Linked DNA regions of Homo sapiens. The protein of the gene in region 4 purifies or fractionates together with the protein of the main gene of each other region. This does not show direct contact. Each region holds a gene or a part of one and is shown on either strand. Other genes may lie near its edges. The genes, in order: LMBRD2, MCUR1, ELOVL2, NTSR1, ALG8, TMEM161B and QNG1.

What was found.
Region 1: the proteins of NTSR1 (region 4) and LMBRD2 purify together in Homo sapiens (affinity purification with mass spectrometry; one large-scale study listed by BioGRID and IntAct). This does not show direct contact.
Region 2: the proteins of NTSR1 (region 4) and MCUR1 purify together in Homo sapiens (affinity purification with mass spectrometry; one large-scale study listed by BioGRID and IntAct). This does not show direct contact.
Region 3: the proteins of NTSR1 (region 4) and ELOVL2 purify together in Homo sapiens (affinity purification with mass spectrometry; one large-scale study listed by BioGRID and IntAct). This does not show direct contact.
Region 5: the proteins of NTSR1 (region 4) and ALG8 purify together in Homo sapiens (affinity purification with mass spectrometry; one large-scale study listed by BioGRID and IntAct). This does not show direct contact.
Region 6: the proteins of NTSR1 (region 4) and TMEM161B purify together in Homo sapiens (affinity purification with mass spectrometry; one large-scale study listed by BioGRID and IntAct). This does not show direct contact.
Region 7: the proteins of NTSR1 (region 4) and QNG1 purify together in Homo sapiens (affinity purification with mass spectrometry; one large-scale study listed by BioGRID and IntAct). This does not show direct contact.

What each region holds. Positions count from the first base shown.
Region 1 is NC_000005.10:36,117,388-36,120,887, forward strand, and holds part of LMBRD2 (G-protein coupled receptor-associated protein LMBRD2), read right to left. Parts: intron 530-3,500; coding exon 348-529; intron 1-347. UniProt on the Homo sapiens protein: Recruited to ligand-activated beta-2 adrenergic receptor/ADRB2, it negatively regulates the adrenergic receptor signaling pathway. May also regulate other G-protein coupled receptors including type-1 angiotensin II receptor/AGTR1.
Region 2 is NC_000006.12:13,790,558-13,794,057, forward strand, and holds part of MCUR1 (mitochondrial calcium uniporter regulator 1), read right to left. Parts: intron 3,482-3,500; exon of another isoform or gene 3,391-3,481; coding exon 3,337-3,390; intron 1,436-3,336; coding exon 1,321-1,435; intron 308-1,320; coding exon 252-307; 3' UTR 1-251. UniProt on the Homo sapiens protein: Key regulator of mitochondrial calcium uniporter (MCU) required for calcium entry into mitochondrion. Plays a direct role in uniporter-mediated calcium uptake via a direct interaction with MCU.
Region 3 is NC_000006.12:10,985,306-10,988,805, forward strand, and holds part of ELOVL2 (very long chain fatty acid elongase 2), read right to left. Parts: intron 1-3,500.
Region 4 is NC_000020.11:62,707,397-62,711,635, reverse strand, and holds the start of NTSR1 (neurotensin receptor type 1), read right to left. Parts: upstream 2,801-4,239; 5' UTR 2,429-2,800; coding exon 1,715-2,428; intron 1-1,714. UniProt on the Homo sapiens protein: G-protein coupled receptor for the tridecapeptide neurotensin (NTS). Signaling is effected via G proteins that activate a phosphatidylinositol-calcium second messenger system.
Region 5 is NC_000011.10:78,136,827-78,140,870, reverse strand, and holds the start of ALG8 (dolichyl pyrophosphate Glc1Man9GlcNAc2 alpha-1,3-glucosyltransferase), read left to right. Parts: upstream 1-1,244; 5' UTR 1,245-1,282; coding exon 1,283-1,377; exon of another isoform or gene 1,378-2,093; coding exon of another isoform or gene 2,094-2,161; intron 2,162-4,044.
Region 6 is NC_000005.10:88,206,346-88,209,845, forward strand, and holds part of TMEM161B (transmembrane protein 161B), read right to left. Parts: intron 836-3,500; coding exon 684-835; intron 155-683; coding exon 94-154; intron 1-93. UniProt on the Homo sapiens protein: Essential for maintaining normal cardiac rhythm in the developing heart and for neonatal survival.
Region 7 is NC_000009.12:83,950,243-83,953,742, forward strand, and holds part of QNG1 (queuosine 5'-phosphate N-glycosylase/hydrolase), read right to left. Parts: exon of another isoform or gene 3,410-3,500; intron 1-3,409.

The DNA.
Region 1 (3,500 bases), on a different chromosome or scaffold from region 4:
GTGAGAGGATTTCTTGAGCCCGGGAAGTTGAGGCTGCAGTGAGCCATGTTCATGCCACCACACTCCAGCCTGGGTGACAGAGCAAGATTCTGCCTCCAAAAAAAACAGAAAGAAAAAAAAAATCTCAGATTTCTGCACTATCTTGCAACTTTTCATCTCTCCTCAAATACAGTTATTAATTTCTATAGTGTGGGTAAAATAATGAAGCACATTTCTGGAAGTTTGAATAACAACACTGCAGAAAACCTCACTGCTTTCATTTTTACTAGAAGAAATACATGGAGAAAATAGTTAAGGATTATACTATGAAGTGACATCTATTTATGACAGACATAAAATAAACTGACCTCGATATAAATATAATTATATGTTTTTTCTGCCAGCTGTATGAAGACCGCAAAGAGGGATAAGACAGGAGTAGTGCTAAAGAATGTGCACTCTGACCACACAACAATCACAGAGAAGATGGACAGAACCACAGCAAGTATCTTGTAAAACCATGGTCGCAAAAGACATTCCCAGTACCATTCTAGAAGACAAAAGAAAAAAATGATTAGGAAAACTACAAAAGAGTAATGGGATATTTACATTGTTTCAAAATAGCTCCTAATAAGATACTTAATTACAAAGAGAAAAACAGCAATTTTACAGTGGAGAATCCAGGCAGATACGAACCTAACCAAATGACACCCATGATGGGACAAACTGACATCATGTGCCTCCTGCTATGATGTACTGATAGGAATGTGACATTGCTGCTGTGGTAGTCCTGTGAAAAATGCAGAACTTGCGTCTAATTTTAAAGAAACATCAAAGTCAAATTCAGGGACATTCAACAAAAAACTGGCCTATACTCCCCAAAACATTTCTGATATATCATAAAACACAAAGACTGAGAAACTGTGTCAGATTAGAGGAAACTAAGGAGACACAACAACTGAATGCGATGCATGATCTGGGATTTTTTACAAAAAATATTATTGGGATAATTATAGCAAAATCTGAATAAGGTCTGTAAATAATGGTAGAGTATAAATATTAATTTTTTTATTTTGATGGCTGTATTTGGCTATGTAAGAAAATATCTTTATTTTTAGAAAATATACACGGAAACATTTAGGAACAAGGAGGCATCATGTCTGGATACAACTCTAAAATAGTAATAAAAAAATACATACAGAAAAAGCAAATCAATATGGCAAAATATTAACATTGGAGAGCCTGGTTGAAGGGTATATGGGAATATTTTGTACTGTTTTGGTTTTTTGTTTTTTTTTTTTTGAGATGGAGTCTCGCTCTGTCGCCCAGGCTGGAGTGCAGTGGCATGATCTCGGCTCACTGCAACCTCTGCCTCCGGGGTTTAAGTGATTCTCCTGCCTCAGCCTCCCAAGTAACTGGAATTACAGGCGTGTGCCACCACTCCCATCTAATTTTCTGTATTTTTATTAGACACGTGCCACCATGCCCAGCTAATTTTTTGTATTTTTAGTAGAGACAGGGTTTCACCGTGTTAGCCAGGATGGTCTCAATCTCCTGACCCCATGATCCACCCACCTCGGCCTCACAAAGTGTTGGGGTTACAGGTGTGAGGCACCACTCCCAGCACTATTTTGGTTTTAAGTCTGAATTTAGGTATAAATAAAAATTTAAAAAAGAAAGCTCAATAAATTAAAAAGCTATATTTTTAGTTCATTTACTGAATAGTTAGCTTCTGGTTCACTGTAATTCTTTACAACTTTCCTCTCATAATTCCTAGTGATTTCAATATCCACATAAATGATTCCCCTTTCAATACCCTTATCTCTCATTTCTTTGACCTCCTCTCCTCTAATGAACTTTCCCTCCACCCTACCTCAATTACTTGTTGCTATAGTGATGCCTAAACCTTTTATTATCAATATCTCCAGCCCTTCCATATAATCACATTCCAGCATCCTTGTCTTCAAACAATACCTTCATCTAGTACAGTATTTCAACTCCACTAACTGACCATACCTGGATGAAAAATCAATTTATTCTATCACATTTTACCGTTATTTAACACTTTGATACCCTTCCTTCCTCATGCAGCTCAGATTCCAGTCTTTGAGGACAGTATCCCACTTACTTTGCCCCATTTTGCTCCACTGTACCTGCTAAGCTAAATCACACCTGTTTAAATCCAACTCGCTGGCTACTCTCAGCCTGCATCCACACAGCTGCACATTGCAGGAGAAAGACACCCCACCTTGTTGACTGGCCTCACTTTAAATTCTTAATCACTAGCTTCAAGTGGGTCCTCAGTACTGCCTCACTAGCCTACTATAATTCCCCAATCTTCTCCCATGCCACTCTCCTAGGCAACTATTTTGCACCTTCTCTTCCCTCCTCAAATCTCTAAAATCTCCTCTCCTATACTTACTCTCCACATTTCATTGAGAAAACAGAAGCGATCAGAGAATTTTCCCAAGTTTCTAACACTACACCTTCTCAGCTAGTTACATCTGTGCCTTACCTCCACCATTCTCTTCATTGTTCACTATTTCCCACCATCTCATCTCTACTAGTCATGAACATTGTCTTAGAAATTCTCTATTGTCTTATCAAATTCTATGAATTTTTTCTTTTCTTTCTCTTTCTTTCTTTCTCTCTTTCTTTCTTTTTGTCTTTCTTTTCTTTCATCTCTCTCTCTCTTTATTTCTTTTTTTTTTTTGACGGAGTCTCATTCTGTCCCCAGGCTGGAGTGTAGTGGTGCAATCTTGGCTCACTGCAACCTCTGCCTCCCGGGTTCAAGCGATTCTCCTGCCTCAGTCTCCCAAGTAGCTGGGACTACAGGTAGGCTGGAGTGCAGTGGCGCAATCTCGGCTCACTGCAACCTCCACCTCCTGGGTTCAAGTGATTCTCCTGCCTCAGCCTCCCGAGTAGCTGGGACTACAGGTAGGCTGGAGTGCAGTGGCACAATCTCGGCTCACTGCAACCTCCGCCTCCTGTTCAAGTGATTCTCCTGCCTCAGCCTCCCGAGTAGCTGGGACTACAGGCACGCACCACCACGCCCAGCTAATTTTTGTATTTTTAGTAGAGACGGGGTTTCACCATGTTGGCCAGGATGGTCTCAATCTCTTGACCTTGTGATCTGCCCGCCTCGGCCTCCCAAAGTGCTGGGATTACAGGTGTGAGCCACCGCGCCTGGCCTCAAATTCTATTATATCATTTACTAATTACATGTGATAATTTCTCTTGACTATGCCCCCAATCCTCTTTCAGCTACTACCCCTTTTCTCTGTTCCCTTTTATAAGGAAAACATTTTTAGAGTTTTCTAGTCTGTCTCCAATTGCTCCTCTTCTTATTTCTTTTAAATTACAGTCAGACTTTTTTATCCTCTCCCCTCACTTCTCTAAAATCCAATGGTCAGGTCTTAATATATATGATCCTTAATCTATGTGCAACATTTGAAAAGGTACTTTATATACTCTTTTCCTCAAAACACTTCATTGTCCTAATTTTCCTATCTCACTGGCCC
Region 2 (3,500 bases), on a different chromosome or scaffold from region 4:
GTTCACACCTTAGCCTCCCGAGTAGCTGGGACTACAGGCGCCCGCCACCACGCCCGCCTAATGTTTTAATTTTTTAGTAGAGACGGGGTTTCACCGTGTTGGCCAGGCTGGTCTCGAACTCCTGACCTCAGGTAATCCACCTGCCTCAGCCTCCCAAAGTGCTGGAATTACAGGTGTGAGCCACCGCACCCAGCCAACAATCTGGTATTCTTAAGGCAAAACAGTAGAAATCACTTTAAATAGACACTTTATTAGATCCACAGGCGATAAAATCCCAGAGCTACTGTTAGGCACGTAAATATAGACCCTGTAAGAAAAAAACAATTGAGAGTACTATTAGTTCTATTAAGAGTTACTTGAGGGAACATCTTTTTTTAAGAAAACCTAAAAAAGAAAACCTAGAAACTTAGATTGCTCACTGATGTCCCATATTCCGTGAAACGCCTGCCTACTGAAAAAACAAATCCCACACCCTTTATTTTATTTTCTTATTTTAGAGACATGGTCTCATCTGGTACCCAGGAGGAGTGCACCATGCAATGGTATGATTACAGCTCACTGTGCCTCAAACTCCCGGGCTCAAGTGACCCTCCTGCCTCAGCCTCCCAAGAAGCTGAAGCTACAGGCAGATGACACCATGCCCGGCTAAATCTTTTTGTAGAGACTAGGTCTCGCTGTGTTGCCTAGGCTAAGAAAACTTTTCAATAAAAGTTTCGAATAGCAAAAATTCTGTGGTCACAAGGTCTATGTATATGCACTATAGAGACAGGAAGACACAATTTAATATAAAGAACAACATTTCACTGTTAAATAATGCTGTAACCTTAAAATATTTAATTAATCCAAGACGTTAAATCTGACTTGAAATAATGGTTAATTTGGGTGGGGGGTGGTACATGAATGTTCATTCTCTCTTTTGGATCAAAAATCGCGAAAGTAAAATAACTCCTTAAAAGGAGTTTAAGCAATTGAAGCAGAAAGATTACAACTGAAACACCTTCCATTTTATCCATAAAATATTTCCTGTCTTGAATCTCATTAAAATCCCTAATAACTATAGTTCAATTATAGTATCTTATCAAATTTCCAATTCTATCAATTATAACGTACACAATTACTTTATTTACTACTAAGAAAGAAAAAGTGCCAATTAAACTATGATACTTCATCTACTGGAAATTGTAAGATGCTTTCCAATTTCAGAGATGTTAAAATATTTCAGAAAGTGTTGGAATCAATGAAATGCAGTATCTGTCAACGACTTATTTTATAAATTTATTTTCTTTTCAGGTTGATTTAAATAGATACAAAATAGCTTACCTGCTAAATATTTAATATTATCAAGCTTGTGTGACTCAAGCATGGTTTTGAGGCCAGCAACCTCAGTTTCGATCTTCCTGTCTGTCTGGGTAAGGGCCCGATCTTGCTGGGCATGCTTTTAAAATGAAGAGAGTCACAGCGTTAGACCACAGCACGTCCCCTCTGCTCACCATCCTATAGCTCCTTCCCAACGGGGTGCAGTCACAGGGAAACCTGGGTAAGACTATGGAGGCCTGGGCTTTAGTCTCAGTTCTAAAACCCTAATTCTACGCTGCATTGGTCAGGACCCTTAACCTCTCTAGGCCTTAGTTTTCTTCTATTTGAAAAAATGAAAACAGAACAAAACGAAACAACCAAGCCAGTGGCCCTGCCTTTACCTGGACTGTTTAGAGAATCAAATGCGATAATCTATGTGAAAAAGCATTTGTAAGCTCTAGGTTGCTATACAAATGATGTGGTATTATGAGGCCAGTCTGTTCTCAAAGGCAACGGCTACGTCTCATCCTTCTAAATCCTCCTTAGTCAAAGATAGACAGTAAACTCAAAAATGTTTTCAAGAAATGGAGTCTTAGATAATGTGAAAGCGGCAGTGCTTGTCTTGAGCTATTTCTAGTCATATTTTTAAAAAACTTTCTTCTTTCATGTTCAAATATCAAGTGTTTCATTACTATGAGGCTTGGCTACCCACGGCCAATTTGTGTCCTTCCCCAAATACAATACAGTTAAACTGGACACATAATCAACCCTCAAAAAGGCAGTGGGTTTGGCCGACGCTATAGGGGGTTGTAGAACTGCATTAAAGCATAAAAACCATGGGAATCCTTCACTAAAACTCCTACAGCAACTAAATCTTTCCCTATGGCTACCAATTCAGGCAGAGAAAAAAAGAAATAAATGCCTGGATGCGTAAAAAAGTATTCCAGAGAAATATCCCAGGATTCTGGAATTCTCTCATGAAAGCCTCTTGGGGGTTTCAGAGGTCCCAGGTTCCATACAGTATGGAAAAGGAGAAATGTATGCTATAAATTAAAAATAGAATAAGACTTCTCCATTCCTCACTATTCTTCAATTACTGAGATTTAAACTTTCTTAATAAAACTTCCGTTAAGAAAAACAAACTCTCAAGTAGGGCATGGTGGTGTGAGCCTGTGGTCCCAGCTACTCTACAGGCTGAGGTGAAGGAGGGTGCAGTGAGCTGAGATTGAGCCACTGCACTCCAGCCTGGGTGACAGAGCGAGACCCCACCTCAAAAAAAAAAAAAAAAAAAAAGAAAGAAGAAAAGGAAACTTTCATTAAGAAAGTTTAAATCTTTCATAGGATAACTATCTTCCATTACGATAACCAAACACTTTGTGAAGTGCAAAAAATCCTGTGACACTCCACTTCTGCATATATACCCAAAAGAACTGAAAGCAGGGATCCCAACAGACATCTGTGCACCCATGCCCACAGCAGCACTATTCACAAAGGCCAACGGGTGGAAGCAACACAAGTGCCCTTGACAGACGAATAAAGAAAATGTGGCATATACATATAATGGAATACTAATCAGCCTTAAAAAGGAAGAAAGTCCTGTCATTTCAACAACATGGATGAACCTTCAGGACACTGTGTTAAGTGAAATAAGCCAGCCACAAAAAGACAAATGCTATGATTCTATTTATATGAGGTATGTAGAATAGTCAAATCCATAGACAGTAGAATGGAGGTCACCAGAGGCTGGAAAAGGGAATGTATAAAGGGTGCAGAGTTTCAATTTTGCAAAATAAAGAGTTCTGTGATAGCCAGTGGCGATGGTTGCCCCAAAATGTGAATGTACTTTAAATGTACTGAACTGTACACTTAAAAAATGGTTAAGATCCTAATTTTTATGTTGTGTGTATTTTAGCACAATGTAAAAAATTCCCATGACAGTAAACCTGCATGTAACTTCCTATTATCATTACAAACAACCATGCATGGAACGAAGCAAAGATGAGTACAAAGACAAAGAAAAATCACAGTCTTGTTTCTTACCAATGCCACTATTTCTGTTCTCAATTCCAGCAGCTTCTTTTCGTTCAATGAATACTGAAATAAACACGTAACATGGGTCAGATTCTGATCTACTCCTCTCTCTTCTCCTTCTCTGGTGCCTTAAATATTCTGGTCTCAGTACCTCCTAGAATACGTAACACCAG
Region 3 (3,500 bases), on a different chromosome or scaffold from region 4:
TAGGTTGCCTGTTCACTCTGATGGTCGTTTCTTTTGCTGTGCAGAAGTTCTTTAGTTTAATTAGATCCCATTTGTCAATTTTGGCTTTTGTTGCCATTGCTTTTGGTGTTTTGGACATGAAGTCCTTGCCCATGCCTATGTCCTGAATGGTAATGCCTAGGTTTTTATGGTTTTAGGTCTAACGTTTAAGTCTTTAATCCATCTTGAAGTAATTTTTGTATAAGGTGTAAGGAAGGATCCAGTTTCAGCTTTCTACATATGGCTAGCCAGTTTTCCCAGCACCATTTATTAAATAGGGAATCCTTTCCCCATTGCTTGTTTTTCTCAGGTTTGTCAAAGATCAGATAGTTGTAGATACGCAGCATTATTTCTGAGGGCTCTGTTCTGTTCCATTGATCTATATCTCTGTTTTGGTAACAGTACCATGCTGTTTTGGTTACTGTAGCCTTGTAGTATAGTTTGAAGTCAGGTAGCGTGATGCCTCCAACTTTGTTCTTTTGGCTTAGGATTGACTTGGCGATGCAGGCTCTTTTTTGGTGCCATATGAACTTTAAAGTAGTTTTTTCCAATTCTGTGAAGAAAGTCATTGGTAGCTTGATGGGGATGGCATTGAATCTATAAATTACCTTGGGCAGTATGGCCATTTTCACGATATTGATTCTTCCTACCCATGAGCATGGAATGTTCTTCCATTTGTTTGTATCCTTTTTTATTTCATTGAGCAGTGTTTTGTAGTTCTCCTTGAAGAGGTCCTTCACATCCCTTGTAAGTTGGATTCCTAGGTATCTTATTCTCTTTGAAGCAATTGTGAATGGGAGTTCACTCATGATTTGGCTCTCTGTTTGTCTGTTATTGGTGTATAAGAATGCTTGTGATTTTTTGTACATTGATTTTGTATCCTGAGACTTTGCTGAAGTTGCTTATCAGCTTAAGGAGATTTTGGGCTGAGACATGGGGTTTTCTAGATATACAATCATGTCACCTGCAAACAGGGACAGTTTGACTTCCTCTTTTCCTAATTGAATACCCTTTATTTCCTTCTCCTGCCTAATTGCCCTGGCCAGAACTTCCAACACTGTGTTGAATAAGAGTGGTGAGAGAGGGCATCCCTGTCTTGTGCCAGTTTTCAAAGGGAATGCTTCCAGTTTTTGCCCATTCAGTATGATATTGGCTGTGGGTTTGTCATAGACAGCTCTTATTATTTTGAGATACGTCCCATCAATACCTAATTTACTGAGAGTTTTTAGCATGAAGGGTTGTTGAATTTTGTCAAAGGCCTTTTCTGCATCTATTGAGATAATCATGTGGTTTTTGTCTTTGGTTCTGTTTATATGCTGGATTACATTTATTGATTTGCATATATTGAACCAGCCTTGCATCCCAGGGATGAAGCCCACTTGGTCATGGTGGATAAGCTTTTTGATGTGCTGCTGGATTCGGTTTGCCAGTATTTTATTGAGGATTTTTGCATCAATGTTCATCAAGGATATTGGTCTAAAATTCTCTTTTTTGGTTGTGTCTCTGCCTGGCTTTGGTATCATGATGATGCTGGCCTCATAAAATGAGTTAGGGAGGATTCCCTCTTTTTCTGTTGATTGGAATGGTTTCAGAAGGAATGGTACCAGTTCCTCCTTGTACCTCTGGTAGAATTCGGCTGTGAATCCATCTGGTCCTGGACTCTTTTTGGTTGGTAAGCTATTGATTATTTCCACAATTTCAGAGCCTGTTACTGGTCTATTCAGAGATTCAGCTTCTTCCTGGTTTAGTCTTGGGAGGGTGTATGTGTCGAGGAATTCATCCATTTCTTCTAGATTTTCCAGTTTATTTGCATAGAGGTGTTTGTAGTATTCTCTGATGGTAGTTTGTATTTCTGTGGGATCGGTGGTGATATCCCTTTATCATTTTTTATTGCATCTATTTGATTCTTCTCTCTTTTCTTCTTTATTAGTCTTGCTAGCAGTCTATCAATTTTGTTGATCCTTTCAAAAAACCAGCTCCTGGATTCATTGATTTTTTGAAGGGTTTTTTGTGTCTCTATTTCCTTCAGTTCTGCTCTGATTTTAGTTATTTCTTGCCTTCTGCTAGCTTTTGAATGTGTTTGCTCTTGCTCTTCTAGTTCTTTTCATTGTGATGTTAGGGTGTCAATTTTGGATCTTTCCTGCTTTCTCTTGTGGGCATTTAGTACTATAAATTTCCCTCTACACACTGCTTTGAATGTGTCCCAAAGATTCTGGTATGTTGTATCTTTGTTCTTATTGGTTTCAAAGAACATCTTTCTTTATTTCTGCCTAGATTTCATGTTTATAGTATCATTTTTAAACTTCTGGTTAAAGATTAAAAATAAAGACCAAAACAAATGCATGTATTTCAATGACTATTAGAGGTCACGATTTGTATATTGTGGGGCTGGCAAAGTATTCTGCATTAGTTGCTCACTTGGAAAGATAAAACTTTTAAAAATAATTCAAGTGGAAAAAGTGCTGTTATTTTAAAATACCAATACCTGGGATTCTGGCTTGATCTAGTTTTTGGCATATCCTTCCTATTCTGACAAAATACCTGATCTCGCATCTCATTTTCACTTTTTTTTTTTTTAAAGCAATAGTATTAACAAGGATCCAAACTTAAATTATATGCTTGACTTCAGAACTAAGATGCAGTTTGAACCAGCATGTAGGGCTAAGGCTTTGAATGCCATTACCTACTCTTGCTGGGCTATACGCTTCTCTTCAACACGAGGTACCAAAATCACTCCCTTAGCTTCCCTTTAACACTTAGCGTTTATTGGGAAGTTGGGGGCAGGGGTTTGCACACCCACACATAGCTTTGTTTGGTCTCATCATTGATTATTTCTTTGGAAATCTTCAAAGGAAACCTTTATCTCTTAAAACAGCCTAGTCCAATTTCAGAAATACAAGACCTGAAAAGCTGTCAAAATTCAGTTTCCACTGTTCCACACTGTATAAAACCACTATGGGGATGTGTGTGGTGGTTCACACCTGTAATCCCAGCACTCTGGGAGGCCAAGGTGGGCGGATCACCTGAGGTCAGGAGTTCAAGACCAGCCTGAACAACATGGAGAAACCCCATCTCTACTAAAAATACAAGATTAGCCAGGCGTGGTGGCACACGCCTGTAATCCCAGCTACTTGGGAGGCTGAGGCAGGAGAATCACTTGAACCCAGGAAGCAGAGGTTGTGTTGAGCCGAGACTGCGCCATTGCACTCCAGCCTGGGCAATAAGAGCAAAACTCTGTTTCAAAAAAATAAATAAAAATAAAAACCACTATGGGTTAACTTTCAGCAAGTGCAAACTAAAAAGTAAAGCACTTCTTATTAGTCTGAAAAAAATACAGTTGAATACAATTTCAAAAGTATAGTTTTGAATATAAATGTACTTTGTTTTTTAAACTAAGCTTTCCATTTCCCCAGCCTACAAAAGAGAGCAATTTAAAATCTACATCCACCTGAGGCCTCTTCTCTGTTATAGCTTTCATCCGT
Region 4 (4,239 bases):
CTTTTGCCAGGGGAGCAGGGGGATCGGGGTTCTGAGCGGGGGGATCGGGGATCTGAGCGGGGGGATCGGGGGTCTGAGTGGGGGGATCCGGGGTCTGAGTGGGGGCATCTCCTGGGTGGGCAGTGACAGCGCTGACCCCTCCACTGCCCACCTTCTGAAGGACTGAGTGGCTGTCGCCCCTGGGGCCCCTCCACGCGGACTGGGGAGAGGTTCCCCCTGGCCAATGCCAATCAAAGACAGGAGCTTGGGGAGAGCAGATAAAGCCTCAAAGGGAGGGAGAGGTCATTTCTCACTGTGTTTACCCCACAGGCCGTGCCTACTTCTGCCTCTGGTGAGGGGAGGGACTCTCGCCGCAGAAGCAAAGCAGCCCTGACTCACTGCCTGCCACCAGTGTCTGTGGGAGGGGCCTCCCCGAGATGGGACACCTGTAGCCACCAGTTCTATGTGCAGCCAGGGAGACTGGGAGCTCAGTTCTACCCTCCTCCACCCCCCAGCCCACCTGGGTGGTGGCCAGTGGAGGGTCAGTTAGGGCCCAGGGAGTGACAGACAGGTGACCCCCTGCCCGGCACTGCTGCCCTCACCCCCACCGGGCATACTGGCATACGCGGGGTGCCCAGGCAACTACAGAAGCTTAGCTGGGAGGCTGGCGATGCTGGTGTGTGGGGAGTTGGGGGGACAGCCAGCCACCCTGGCCCCTCTAGCTGGGCAGAGGTAGGCGACTCTGCCCGGATCCTTCACCCTCTGGCTTCCTTAGCCCACCAGAAATGGAGGAAACCCCACACTTCTAAGGCTGCTCATTTCCAAGATGCCTTTCAAAGTTCCCGACCGGCCCTGACTTCCTCCCTGGACACCAGCCTCCTGCTCGGGGCTTTGGTTTGATCAGCCCTCCCCTCCAGCACTGGAACCCCCCGTGCCACGAACCTCAGCCAAACTGATTCCCAAGGGGGCTTCCCACCCGCATTCCCACGGCGCTTTGCTCAGACCCTTGGAGGGCCCTTAGTCACTCGGCTCCAGTTTTACACACCTCACCACAACACCGCCGCCACACGCAGATCCTCACAACCTTCCCCGCAGAAACATCGTCCCCACCATCCCGCAATAATAGTGCCTGTGAGCCCTTCTATGTGTCAGGGGCCATGCAAACACTTCCCACGCGTCCTCTCTCCAATGCTCTACCTTCTGAGGTCAATGCTATCACTACCCCATCACACAGATGGGAAAGCTGAGGCTAAACTAGGAACTGGCCCAACACGGCATCAGGTTCTGTTCTGACTCCCAAGTTTGGGTCAGGGCAGGCAGCTGGGAGGCACCGGCAGAGCCAGTCTGGGGGCTTCTCTGCAGAGGAAGGAACATCACCTGTTGGTGGCACAGTCTTTTGAGAAGCTGATGAAAGTGTTACTCTTCCTTTGGAGACGCAGGTGCCAGCGCACATGTTTCCATTAGGCTTAAGGAATTCAGAGATGTCCGAGGCCCAGCCACCAACACCAGAGAGGTCACAGGCAGGGGCTCCATCCCCTCAACAGGAGGGAAGAAGATAGGGGCTGAGCCTGGCAACTCTGGAGCTGCCCCCAAGCTGCCCCAACCGCCTTCCCAGCCTCGCAGGAGTAGACTGTCTCTGTGACATCTCTCCCACTCCCTACCCAGAAGGCACACCACTGGCACTGCTTTTGGGGTGAAGGAGAGGGGAGCCCCGGGGCTGGTTACTGAGGCTCACCTGTATGACGACCTTGACGGTGGCAGTGTGGATGGTGGGGGTGCACACCAGGCCGCCGGCGTGCTGGCCGTCGGCGCTGCGGTTCTGCTCGCCCATGGTGAACAGCATAGGCACCGCCAGCAGGGCCGAGGCGAGCCAGATGGCGCTGATGAACTTCTTGGTGCGGCTTCGGGACATGAGGGTCTTGGCCTTGAAGGGGTGGCAGATGGCCAGGTAGCGCTCCACACTCAGGCTGGCCACGTTGAGGGCCGTGGCGTAGGTGCAGGCGTCGCGCAGGAAGTAGTAGCCGCGGCAGCCGGCGTCGCCGAAGGCCCAGGGGTGGTGCACCCAGATGAAGTTGTACAGCTCCACGGGCATGGCCAGCAGCAGGGTGAGCAGGTCGGACAGCGCCAGGCTGCCCAGGTGGTAATGCACCGTGCTCTGCAGGCTCTGCAGCGACTTCTTCCGCGCCAGCGTGAACGCCGTCACCGTGTTGCCCACCGTGCCCACCACGAAGAGCGCCAGGTACACGGCGGTCACCAGCACCTTGGAGTAGATGTCGGTGTTCACGTCCAGCTCGCTGCTGGGTGCCGCCAGGACGCGCTCCGACGCGTTGCCCGAAGCGTTGCCGAAGCCCGGGGCCAGCAGCGCCTCCTCCAGTCCGGCCTGCGCCCGCTGGAAGGGGTCGGCGGCCGGCGTGCCCGGGGTTCCCGGCGCGGAGCTGTTGAGGCGCATGGTGGGCGCTGGAGTCCGCGGCTCTGTCCGGCGCCTCCGGGGCTGGAAGTCCGGGCAGGAGTGGGCGCGTCTCAGGCGGGGACCGATGAACGGGAGCCCAGGGGAGGGCGCGTGGCGAAGACCAGCGGGCGCGCCGTCCAGTCGGGAAGCGCCAGACCCAGACGCGCCGCCCCGGGCTCCGGGCTCCGGGCTCCGCTCTCCTCCGGACTCCCAGCTTCCGGCTCCTAGCTCCAGAACCCGTGGTTCCTCGGGCTGTCTCCCGGCTCGGCGCTTGCCACGGGTTCCAGGTGCCTCCGATCTCCAAACCGCGCGGTTCCCCAGGCCCCCGAGGACAGCGCCCAGCCCGGCTCGGGCTGCGCGGGGCGAGCTTGTGGCGCCGGGAGGAGCGCACGCACTGCTGCCCGGGCGCGCTCCCCTCCCTCGCTCAGAATCTCCTCCCTCGCGCTCTCCGCGCACCCCAGCCCCGCACACCTCCCGCCGCGCCCGCGCCCTCCCGGCTCTGCGCGTCTCCACGGAGCCGGCGGCCGCGCGGCGCGCCCAGCAGTGGGGGGTGGCGGCGGAGGAGGGAGGCAGCCCCCGCCGCCATCCCCGCCCCGCCCGGGTGCAGCCTGGCGGGTCGCCCCCTCGCGCTCCCCGGGGCAGGGCGGGCTGGGGTGAGCGCTCCAGGGAACCAGGATTCCGAGCGGGCGCGGCGGGTATCGTGCACCAGACCCTTCCTGCCACCCTCTTCCCTGTTCTCCGCAATTTCTCGCACCGGCTAGGAAGGGAACTATGCACCTCCCCCAACCCTGGGCTCGCTCAGTTGGGGTGAGGGTGTATCCGGAGGGCAGGGAGGGAGGAAGCTCCCCGCTGGCAGGGCTGGGCGGCTGCGCAGCTGGTTGGGCCGACCCCCACTCCTGGGTGTCCACAGGGTGCCAGAAGCTGGGTGCCCAGGGGGCTCTAGGACCACTGGAGATTACATTTCTGGTGATTCCTTTTAAAATCTGGCCGCAGTCATGGGCGTGCCTGGTCTGTGAATGCGTATTTCTGGGATGTGCCCAGTGGAAATGGTGGGGGCTCAGGGCATAGTTATCACCTGGGGCAGGATGGCGTGAGGCAGTACCGAGGGACACCTGCAGGGGCTGAGGAGCTGAGGGGCTGGGTCCTGCAGAGGCCGGGAGCCACAGATGGTTTCATCAAAGTCTGGGGAGGGGTGAATGAGGGAGGGCAGAAAGCAGGTGCCCAGAGCAGCACCCTCCCCACTCAGGGCCCTGCATCTGGCACCCTGGGCTGGTCTCATGACGCTATGGGATGTGATGCCCTGGGCCCCTTATTACTGCCTGGATTTGTCATCAGAAGCCACCCTGAGAGCCTGCGCCCCAGCAGGATTTGGGAGAGGCAGCCCCAGCACGCATCCTCCCAGGCCCTGCAGGCTTTGCACACTCCCTCCCTCTGAGTGTCCTCACAGGGTGCCCCGGCCCCTGGCTCGGGAGCCAGGTGAGGGCAAGATTCCTGTCCTTTCCGTGTCCCCCCCAGCACCTGGTGGCACTGGCATAGGTGGCCAGGCACAAGCTTGCCCCCCCCTCCATGTCTGGGTTGCCCAGGGGCCCCCAGGGCACTACTGTCCCTTCTCTGGGCCCTCCCCGCCCCCTCCCCTGCTCCCTCCTCCCCAGAACCCCTGGGAGAGGTTGGGTAGAGCTGCTGCCCCATGTGTGCAGGGCTGGGAGGAGCTGCTCGAGTGCAGCCCAGGGAACCAGCCTGGCCTTTGTGCACATGGCTGGCTGCACCTGCTGTGCTGGGAGCAGGAAACCTGGGCAGGCTGGGGCGGGGGT
Region 5 (4,044 bases), on a different chromosome or scaffold from region 4:
AGGGAGGTGACACTGTCACCTACTTGCTGTGCATCTTTCAGCAAGATAATTAACTGATCTGACACATTATTGAGCATTTATTCTGTCCTGGAATCATATCAAGCAATTTACATGCATTCTCATTTAATCCTCACAACCAGTTTATGAGGCTGAAACTTTTTTTTTTTTAGACCAAAAGCATCTTGGATAAACAGGCCTGAGGCTTGCCCAGGCTGAAGTGCAATGGCGCGATCTCAGCTCACTGCAACCTCCGCCTCCCACGTTCACGCGATTCTCTAGCTTCAGCCTCCCGAGTAGGTGGAATTACAAGCGCCCGCCACCATGCACGGCTAATTTTTTTTTAATTTTTAGTAGAGACAGGGTTTCACCATATTGGCCAGGCTGATCTCAAACTCCTGAACTCAGGTGATTCGCCCACCTCGGCCTCCCAGTGTTGGGATTACAGGCGTGAGCCACCGCGTCCGGCCAGAAACCATTTTTATCTCCTATTTTCAAAAATAAATAAATAAATAAAAATTTTAAAAAAAGAAACTGAGGTTTAGAGTTTAGTTTGTCCAAGATCATACAGTAAAATAATGAGACAAGCCTAATTAAATTGCATGTGCCTCAGTCATTACGCAATCTGCGAGTTTGTTGGGCCTACTGAATCAGAATCCGAATTATTTTAACATGAACCGTAGGCTATTTGTACACTAAGCGTTAGGACTAGCCTCTACCCTGCTTCCAGAATGGGTTCCGCTCAAGCAGGAGGTGAGCCAAGAGCCTCGCTCAGAGTTCTAAAAACACAATGTTTCTCACCTCTGTATCTTTGCACATGCCATTCTCTAGCTGGATTTAATACTCCGGTGCAAGCGTCCAGGTTGGGAGCCCCCGCAGTTCTCTGAGGTACTTTTATCTACTGTAACTCTAGGGCAACAATCCTGGCTTCTCCACTAGTGCGTGAACGTCTCTAGCGTTAAGTTTTTTTCTCACCTAAGTATCCCCAATACTACACAGTGATGACCCAGCGCAAACGACCACTCTTTCAACGCAAGCATGAACTAGCTGATAAAACTTAAAAGTGGCTACAAACGCCTGCGCAGGAGCCCTTCCGGCCCGGGGTGAGACGCGGGTCTAAAGAAAAGGTGGGCGGGAGGTTTAAATAGCTGACTGCAGTCCCCGGACTGGCTGCGCCGCTCGCCGCATGCGCGCAGCTAGCGGGCACGGCTTCAGAGGGCTTTCTCCGCATGCGCGGGATCCCGGATGTGGATCAAGTTGGTGGGAAGCGTGCGGTGCCGCAGCAATGGCGGCGCTCACAATTGCCACGGGTACTGGCAATTGGTTTTCGGCTTTGGCGCTCGGGGTGACTCTTCTCAAATGCCTTCTCATCCCCACATAGTAAGGGACTCGCACGGCCAGGGGCTGGGCGGGGAGGCCCCGCGGTCGGTCAGGGCGGGAGAGAAAGGTGTGGATATCCCTGGGTATGAAGAGAAAACTTTAGGTCGTGTTTGTCGCTATCCTGCCTTTGCTAAGCTTTCTGTTTCGCCAGTTGTTACTTGACTTAGCCCCAGCTGGCTAGGTTCAGACCTGGCGCTGTCTGATTTGGAACAAATCACTTTAACGTTTCTGAACCTCAGGGTCCTCATCCTTAATAGGCAGTTAAGAACCTCTGCCTCCAACAGCCATTCAGCCAGTATTATCAGATGCCTGAGGTGCCAGGTACCGTTCTAACTCCCGGGAGATGCGGTGGTGAGCAAGACATTGCTGGTCCTTGCCCTCGAAGTTGGTGGGTGGAGCTAGACAAACAGGAACTTTTCAGATTGTGATAAAGGAAATAGAGGGTTACTAAGTGGCTGTGCGCTATTCCTTTAGAAGGTGATGTTTGAGTTGAAATTCAAAAAATGAAAAAGAATAAGTGATGTGGAAAGCAGTTCAGGCATAGGAAAGAGTAAGTTCAAAGGCCCTGTGGCAGGAAAGAAGTCAGAGCATTCTAGGAACAGAAAGTGCCCCTTGTGGCTGCAGAGCATTGAGGGAGAGGAGTGGCACAGCATGGGGTGCACTGGGGACAGATAACACAGGGTTTCGAAGACCACAGTTAGACTGCTGTGTAAAAAATGGATGTAGGGCCAAGACTGAAAGCGTGGAAACCAAGAAGCAACCATGAAATGGTGGTGTGTATACAGTAGGTACTCAGTATTTATTAATATTGGCTTCCGCCTTCCCTTCATCCTTCCTCTTTTTTCTTTTTCTCCCTCATCCCTTTTCTCCTTTCCCTCCCACTTCCTAGTTTAGGGTTTGTTTTATTGGTATCCTTTGATTCAGGCTCTTGGTGATCTCTTGTTGAATATGGGAGAGTCATATGTATAGAATGTAAGTCCATACTGATGCGTATATGTAATCATGTAAGTGGAATGTATATGTAGATTCAGTAAAATGATTAACTGTAGGTCTGTGCATAAGATTATTTCTTGCTTTAGTTGCCTCAGGCTAGAAATGTATCCTCAGAGTTGTTTTTTTTGTTTGTTATTTTTTTTTTTTTTGAGACAGTCTCGTCCCACTCTGTCACCCAGGCTGGAGTACAGTGGCACGATCTCAGCTTACTGCAACCTCTGCCTCCCGGGTTCAAACGATTCTCCTGCCTCAGCCTCCGGAGTAGCTGGGATTACAGGCTTGCACCACCGCGCCAGGCTAATTTTTGTATTTTTAGTAGAGATGGGGTTTCACCATGATGGCGGAGGGCTGATCTCAAATCTCCTGACCTCAAGTGATCCACCTGCCTCGGCCTCCCATAATGTTGGGATTACAGGCATGAGCCACCGTGCCTGGCCAGAGTTGTTATTTTGAATACTGCTCTTGGTCCAGGTTAAGAATGTATATAGCGCTCACTTTGGCAGCACATGTACAGGAATACCTCATTTTTTGTACTTTGCTTTATTGCACTTCACAGATACTGCATTTTCATTTTTTTTACAAATTGAAGGCTGCGGTAACTCTCCATTGAGCAACTCTATCAATGCCATTTTTCTAACATCATGTGCTCATTTTGTGTCTGTGTTACATTTTGGTAAATCTTGAAATATTTCACACTTTTTCATTGCTATTATATTTGTTATGATCTGTAATCAGTGATCTTTGATACTACTATTCTGATTGCTTTGGGGCAACACTATGGTGAACTTAATAAATGCTGTGTGTTCTGACTGCTCTATCAACCAGCTGTTCCATCATCTCTCTCCCTCTCCTCAGGCCTTGCTGTTGACTGAGATACAATAATAAAGTTAGGCCAATTAATAGCCCTACAGTGGCATCTAAGTGTTCAAGTGAGAGGAAGAGTCACATATCTCTGACTTTAAATCAAAAGCTAGAAATGATTGAGCTTGATGAGGAAGGCATCCTGAAAGCCAAGACGGGCTGAAAGCTAGGCCCATTGTGCCAAACAGCCAAGTTGTGAGTGCAGAGGAAAAGTTCTTGAAGGAAACTAAAAGTGCTACTCCAGTGAATACACAAGTGATAAGAAAGTGAAACAACCTTGATGATATGGAGAATGTTTTAGTGGTCTGGATAGATCAAACCAGCCATAACATTCCCTTAAGCCAAAACCTTATCCAGAGCAAGGCCCTAAGTCTTCAATTCTTTGAAGCCTAAGAGAGGTGAGGAAGTTGCAGAAGAAAATTTGGAAGCTAGCAGAGGTTCTTTTAAGAAAAGAAGCCATCGGCCGGACGCGGTGGCTCATGCCTGTGATCCCAGCACTTCGGTAGGCCAAGACGGGCGGATCACCTGAGGACCAACATGGAGAAATCTCGTCTCTACTAAAAATACAAAATTAGCTGGGCGTGGTGGAGCATGCCTGTGATCCCAGGTACTTGGGAGGCTGAGGCAGGAGAATCACTTGAACCCGGGAGGTGGAGGTTGCAGTGAGCTGAGATCGCGCTATTGCACTCCAGCCTGGGCAACAAGAGTGAAACTCTGTCTCAAAAAAAAAAAAAGGAAGAAAAGAAGCCATCTCCATAATAAAGTACAAGGTGAAGCAGCAAGTGCTGATGTAGAAGCTGCAGTAAGTTTTCT
Region 6 (3,500 bases), on a different chromosome or scaffold from region 4:
TACTAATTTAAAACAGCTATTTATAGTAAATACTGCTTTATTAAAAATAGAAAAGGTTAAATTTAAATAATGCTTAATTTTTCAAAAACTTACTGAGATTCTAAACCTTGCTTTTCAAGAAACTGCATCGCACTGTCTGAAAAATTTGTAAACCCTGTGGGGGAAAAAAAAAAAAACAACAGATTACTCTTATCACAAATGTGAAATACAGAATCTTTCCATGGAAATAAAATGTTAGAAAACAGAGCATCTTAAATTTTGAAGTGACTAGCTTAGCTCTTTCATGTGTTAATTAGTATGCCATAATGCAATAAAATTTGGTTATTAGCAGGAACAGTCTTTGAAAACGTCCCTTTGATATTTGTACATTCCATGAGTGTGCATAAAATTTGCATTAATTCTTCAACTATAAGAGTAAACTTTAGCATTACAGAAACTTATTTAACTGTAAGGAAAAAAACGAGACAGTATTTTTGGAAAAAAACATTAATTAAAAACTTAGCTAAAACAAAAGCAAAAAATGAAGATCTTAATAATAAAGGTTAATTATTTTGAACATTACAGAGTATACACTTTAAATTTAATTTTAGATATTTATCAGACATAAAACTTAAATACTGAAGTCAAAAATATTAACACTAGATAAAGCAAAATTGATTTTTAAAGTTGTATGAAACTATTACCTGTTTCAAGTCCAAATTCCAGATAATTTTCTGTTACAATCAACACTGCCATTGCTTTGACAAAGAAAAAAAATCCAAAGGTGACACAAACAGATCTTTCACCACCATCTTCTACTTTAAAATAGTGTGTAGTTAATGAAAATAGAACTTTGCTGCAGAAGGAAAAGTTCAGGAAAAACCACAATAAATTTATAGGAGCTATACACAATGATCTTTATAGGACTTGATTGCAATAAAATTTGACTACAACATTTATTTCCAAGTGGAGTTTAAAACACTTTTAAATTAAGGAAAAGAGCACCCATATACTAAGTTGTAGCTAGGGAATGTATTTCTAGTTTATCTCACTCAAATTTTACTAGAAGGTTATTTCAAGATTTTTATGCAGTATGTTCTCAGTGACATGAAAAGCCAGGGTAGAGGTTATTCTAGAGAACTGTCTTTATTAGGCATGTCTGTTAAACCAGTTTACATTTATAATTAAACACATAACACAGGAATCCTCCGTAATAATTCAACAAGTTAAAATTTGAGAATTTTACTAGTAGCTATTGTTGATCTGTGGTATGAAAACTAAGTGTCTGGGGTCACCACTTCACATTAGTAATAAGAAAAAATCTTTAGAGAAAACAAGTTCCAACTGAGTATTCAAAAACAGCAAAAGTTTCAACATGTTCACCTATTAAAATAGGCTGAAGAGATTATCTTATCTGAACCACCCCAACACACACAAATTGATTTAATCAAGGTTAAATCAGTGCATGGCCCAAAGATAGAACTCAGATTTCCATTATACACCAAATTGTTCTCCTTGAAATCGCAAAACAAACTAAGGTGCTTGGCAAACAAACCTAGAAAAGTAACCTTTACGTAAAGTTTATGTCAAGCATGGAAAATTAACAGCTATCACTTAGTACTTGCCATATGCCGGGCATTACCAATTAACTTTTAATTCTCACACTAACCACATTATTATTGCTACTTTACAGACATTTTAAAAAACTTAAACAAACAAACAAACAAACAAAAAACAACTGTGGGCCGGGCGCAGTGGCTCACGTCTGTAATCCCAGCACTTTGGGAGGTCTAAGCCGGCGGATCACCTGAAGTCAGGAGTATGAGACCAGCCTGGCCAACACGGCGAAACCCCGTCTCTACTTAAAATACAAAAATTGCCGGGCGTGGTGGCTCACGCCTGTGATCCCAGCACCTTGGGAGGCCGAGGCGGCTGGATCACGAGGTCAGGAGATCGAGACCATGCTGGCTAACATGATGAAACCCCGTCTCTACTAAAAATACAAAAACTAGCTGGGCATGGGGGCGGGCGCCTGTAGTCATAGCTACTAGGGAGGCTGTGGCAGCAGAATGGCGTGAACCCGGGAGGCGGAGCTTGCAGTGAGCTGAGATCGCGCCACTGCACTCCAGCCTGGGTGACACAGTGAGACTCCGTCTCCAAAAAAAAAATTAGCCGGGCATGGTGGCACACGCCTGCAATCCCAGGTACTCGGGAGGCTGAGGCAGGAGAATCGCTTGAACCTGGGAGGCGGAGGTTGCAGTGAGCCGAGATAGCACCACTGCACTCCAGTCTGGGCAACAAGAGTGAAACTCCGTCTCAGGAAAACAAAAAACAAACAACAGCAGCAACAAAAAAACAACAACTGTGGCAGAGAGGTAAAAGTAAAAATATCAAAATCACAGCTAGATTAGAGAAAGTTGAGATTTAAAACTAGACAGTCTGGATCTAGAATCTGTGCACGTAACTATTGATTACATTGCCTCTAAAACACTGTACATAGCACCTAAGTCAATGTGGTACTTTTAGCAGTAACACATAAAATCTTTTCAAAACAGAACTGCCCTGACAGAAGTAAAGAATTAAAACATTCTCATAATCAGAAGAATCCTTTCATATATATCTCACACACATAGTCTGAAGGTAATTTTATACAACATATTTAATAATTTTGTGCATGAAAAAAATTTTGACTGCATTTTAACTGCAATCTCTCACATGAGGCCCAGTGTAAAGTCTTCTACTTCTGGTGTTATGTCAGTACTGGAAAAGTTTTGGATTTTGGAGCATTTCGGATTTTGGATTGTAATGCTCAACCTGTATCAAACAATACAGGTCCATCCATCTCTTTCTTGGCATTATAAGGAAGAGCTTACATATTAGAAGAGGACAAAGAAAGATGAATATAGTCAAACTGCAAAACTACAACTGAACTGCTTTTAAGATACAGCTATGATCTCTCATAGCCTAAATGCCTTAAACTCAGGTTTGAAAAACACTGCTTTATTTTTACTGAAAATGTTTACTAGAATCTATAAGGAGACAATTTCCAACTTCTTTTCTTACACTGAAAAACAAAATAGTATCTTTGGCCAAAAGTGGTACCAAATCATCAGAATAAAATTTCCCAAAAATTACACCTACCACCACACTTTGTTATCCTAGAATAATGAAATTACAAAATATGTCAACACTAAAGGAAAACAAAATTACATGCAATCTGATCCAGACATGAAGCATGATCTTGCACTTATCACTAATACTTTACAGTCCCACACCACAAATGCCTAAAATGGTATAATCACTGCATCCTCACTTCATATTGCATACTGGATAAATCTTAAAAACCTAATTATTTATTGAGTTCCACATTAGAACACCATCTCCCAATAACCCGTATGTAATACTATGATCTGGCCACACTCACATGTTCAAGCTTTCATTCAATAGTCCCCAAATCTCCACCTCAATCAGAATAGTGTACTTGCCATCTCCTGAGTGTCATCACTACACTGTCTTGGATC
Region 7 (3,500 bases), on a different chromosome or scaffold from region 4:
TTTCACCACGTGTGCCAGGCTGGTCTTGAACTCCTGACCTTGTGATCCACCTGCCTCGGCCTCCCAAAGTGCAAGGATTACAGGTATGAGCCACCACGCCTGGCCATCTCTATAAAACATTTTCTTGGTAAGCTCATTATGGTTTTAGAAATCAAATGATTTTTGTAATCAAATTCTGGATCTCTAAAATATTAACTGGTATCACTAAAACTACTAGTAAATCTCCAAATAACAATTGCTTACATGTTTCATGATATTGTTTTGTGATTTAAATATTTTCTAAATCGTACCTTTATAAAATAATTGTCAATAAAAAGCTCTATGACCATGAGTTAATTTTTTTCTTTTCTTTTCTTTTTTTTTTTTTTTTTGAGACAGGGCCTCACTGCTGCCTAGGCTGTAGCTCAATTCAGTGGCTCAATCACGGCTCACTGCTGCCTTGACCTCCTTGGGCTCAAGCAATCCTCCCACCTCAGCCTCCTGAATAGCTGGGACTATAGGTGTTCACCACCAAGGCCAGTTAATTTTCTTGTTATTTTGCAGAGATGAGGTTTCCCCATGTTGCCTAGGCTGGTCTTGAACTCCTGGGCTCAAGTGATCCACCCACCTTGGCCTCCCAAGGTTCTAGGATTACAGGAAAGAGCCATCGCACCTGGACAGTTAAGTTTTTTGAAAAAATTATTCCATAATTTTATCATGAATAAATAGAAAGTTCAAGGATTACAAAAGTTAAGAACAACATAGGCCAAGTGCGGTAGCTCATGCCTGTAATCCCAGCACTTTGGGAGGGAGGCCGAGGTGGGCAGATCACCCGAAGTCAGGAGTTCAAGACCAGCCTGGTCAACATGGTGAAACCCTGCCTCTACAAAAATATAAAAATTGACCAGGCATGATGGCGGGTGCCTGTAATCCCAGCTACTCGGGAGCTGAGGTGGGAGAATCGCTTCAACTTGGGAGGCGGAGGTTGCAGTGAACTGAGATTGTGCCATTGCACGCCAGCAAGACTCCATCTCAAAAAACAAAAAACAAAAAACAAAGGCTGGCATGGTGGCTCACGCCTGTAATCCCAACACTTTGGGAGGCCAAGGCGGGTGGATCACCTGAGGTCAGGAGTTCGAGACCAGCCTGGCCAACATGGTAAAACCCCATCTCTACTAATATACAAAAATTAGCCTGGCGTGGTGGTGCGCACCTCTAATCCCAGCTAACTCAGGAGGCTGAGGCAGGAGAATCACTAGAACCCGGGAGGCAGAGGTTGCAGTGAGCCGAGATTGCGCCATTGCACTGCAGCCTGGGTGACAGCGAGACTCTGTCTCAAAAAACAACAACAAAAAAACTAAAAATAAAAAATAAAATGTTATCTATTGAAATATCAAAAAGCTTATGTTTTTTATATTTATCAGTATGTCACAGTAACAGTAATAGTCATAAGAAAGCCAATTTGCTAATTAGAACTTTTACAAAGTTACTGCATTACTCTAAATCAGAGTAACTTGAAGAGCTTAAAAAATAGCTCTTCTTTCACCTATTCATCAGGCTCTTTGAGGGTGGTGTTTTGGAAATATATCTGAATTAAGCCTCCTAAGTGATTCTGGGGCACAGCCAGGTTGGGAAATCACTGATCTAAATCTATCTAAATTAAAAATTGTTAACTTTATTAATCTGTTCATGTCTAAAAATGAATGATAATCTCAGTAAATAGGTATACGTTAAAAACACATGACTAGTTTGTGCAAATTGTTTATTTTTATTTATTTATTTTTTTGGGGACAAGGTCTTGCTCTTCCAGGCTGGAGTAAAGTGGAACTATCAGAGCTCACTGCAGCCTCCACCTCCTGGGCTCAAGCGATCCTCCTGCCTCAGCCTCCTGAGTAGCTAGAACCACAGGCATGCCACCACGCCTGGCTAGTTTTTAAATTTTTTGTAGAAATGGAGTCTCACGTGTTGTCCAGGCTGGTCTCGACCTCCTGGGCTCAAGCAATCCTCTTACCTCAGCCACCCAATGTGTTGGGATTATGGGCTTGAGCCACCATGCCTGGCCCATTTTGGGGATTTTTCTGTAAAACTGTATGTTAGAAACAAGTACTCATGAGAAATGGTTTCTGTACCAATTTTCATTTAAAAATGTATCAGATTAGGTCAGGCGCTGTGGCTCACGCCTGTAATCCCAGAACTTTGGGAGGCCAAGGTGGGTGGATCACAGGGTCAGGAGTTCAAGATCAGCCTGGCCAATATGGTGAAACCCTGTCTCTACTAAAAATACAAAAATTAGGCCAGGTGCGGTGGCTCACGCCTGTAATCCCAGCACTTTTGAGGCTGAGGCGGGCGGATCACCAGGTCAGGAGATCAAGACCATCCTGGCTAACACGGTGAAACCCTGTCTCTACTAAAAATACAAAAAAATTAGCCGCGCGTGGTGGCGGGCACCTGTAGTCCCAGCTACGAGGGAGGCTGAGGCAGGAGAATGGCGTCAACCCAGGAGGCGGAGCTTGCAGTGAGCTGAGATCGCGCCACTGCACTCCAGCCTGGGTGACAGAGCAAGACTCCGTCTGAAAAAAAAAAAAAAAAAACAAAAATTAGCTGTGCGTGGTAGTGGGTGCCTGGAATCCCAGCTACTCGGAGGCAGAGAACCGCTTGAACCTGGGAGGCGGAGGTTGCAGTGAGCAGAGATGGTGTCACCGCACTACAGCCTGGGTGACAGAGTGAGACTCTGTCTCAAAAAAAAAAAAAAAAAGTATCAGATTGGCTGGGCATGGTGGCTCAAGCCTGTAATCCCAGCACTTTGGGAAGCTGAGGTAGGCAGATCACTTGAGGTCAGGAGTTCAAGACCAGCCTGGCCAACATGGTGAAACCCTGTTTCTACTAAAAATACAAAATTAGCTGGGCATGGTGGCGGATGCCTGTAATCCCAGCTACTTGGGAGACTGAGGCAGGAGAATCATTTGAACCCAGGAGGTGGAGGTTGTAGTGAGCCAAGATACTGCCACTTTCTGGTACATTTTTTAAAAATTGAACTTTTCAGCAAAGCAAAACCAAAGCACTGTGCTATAAATGAAATGCAGTTCTTTATAGCAGTGTGAGAACACACTAATACAATTGAATTCTTTTTTTTTTTTTTTCTTGAGATAGAGTCTTGCTCTTGTCGTCCAGGCTGGAGTGCAGTGGCATGATCTCAGCTCACTGCAACCTTCAGCTCCTGGGTTCAAGTGGTTCTCCTGCCTCAGCCTCCTGAGTAGCTGGGATTACAGGCACCCACCACCACACCCGGCTAATTTTTATATTTTTAGTAGAGACGGGGTTTCACCACGTTGGCCAGGCTGGTCTTGAACTCCTGACCTTGTGATCTACCCGCCTTGGCCCCCCAAAGTGCTGGGATTACAGGTGTGAGCCACCACGCCAAGCCAATTTCTTTTATTTTTTCTTTTATTTTTTTGAGATGGAGTCCAGCTCTGTCACCCAGGCTGGAGTGCGGTGGCGTAATCTCGGCTCACTGCAACCTC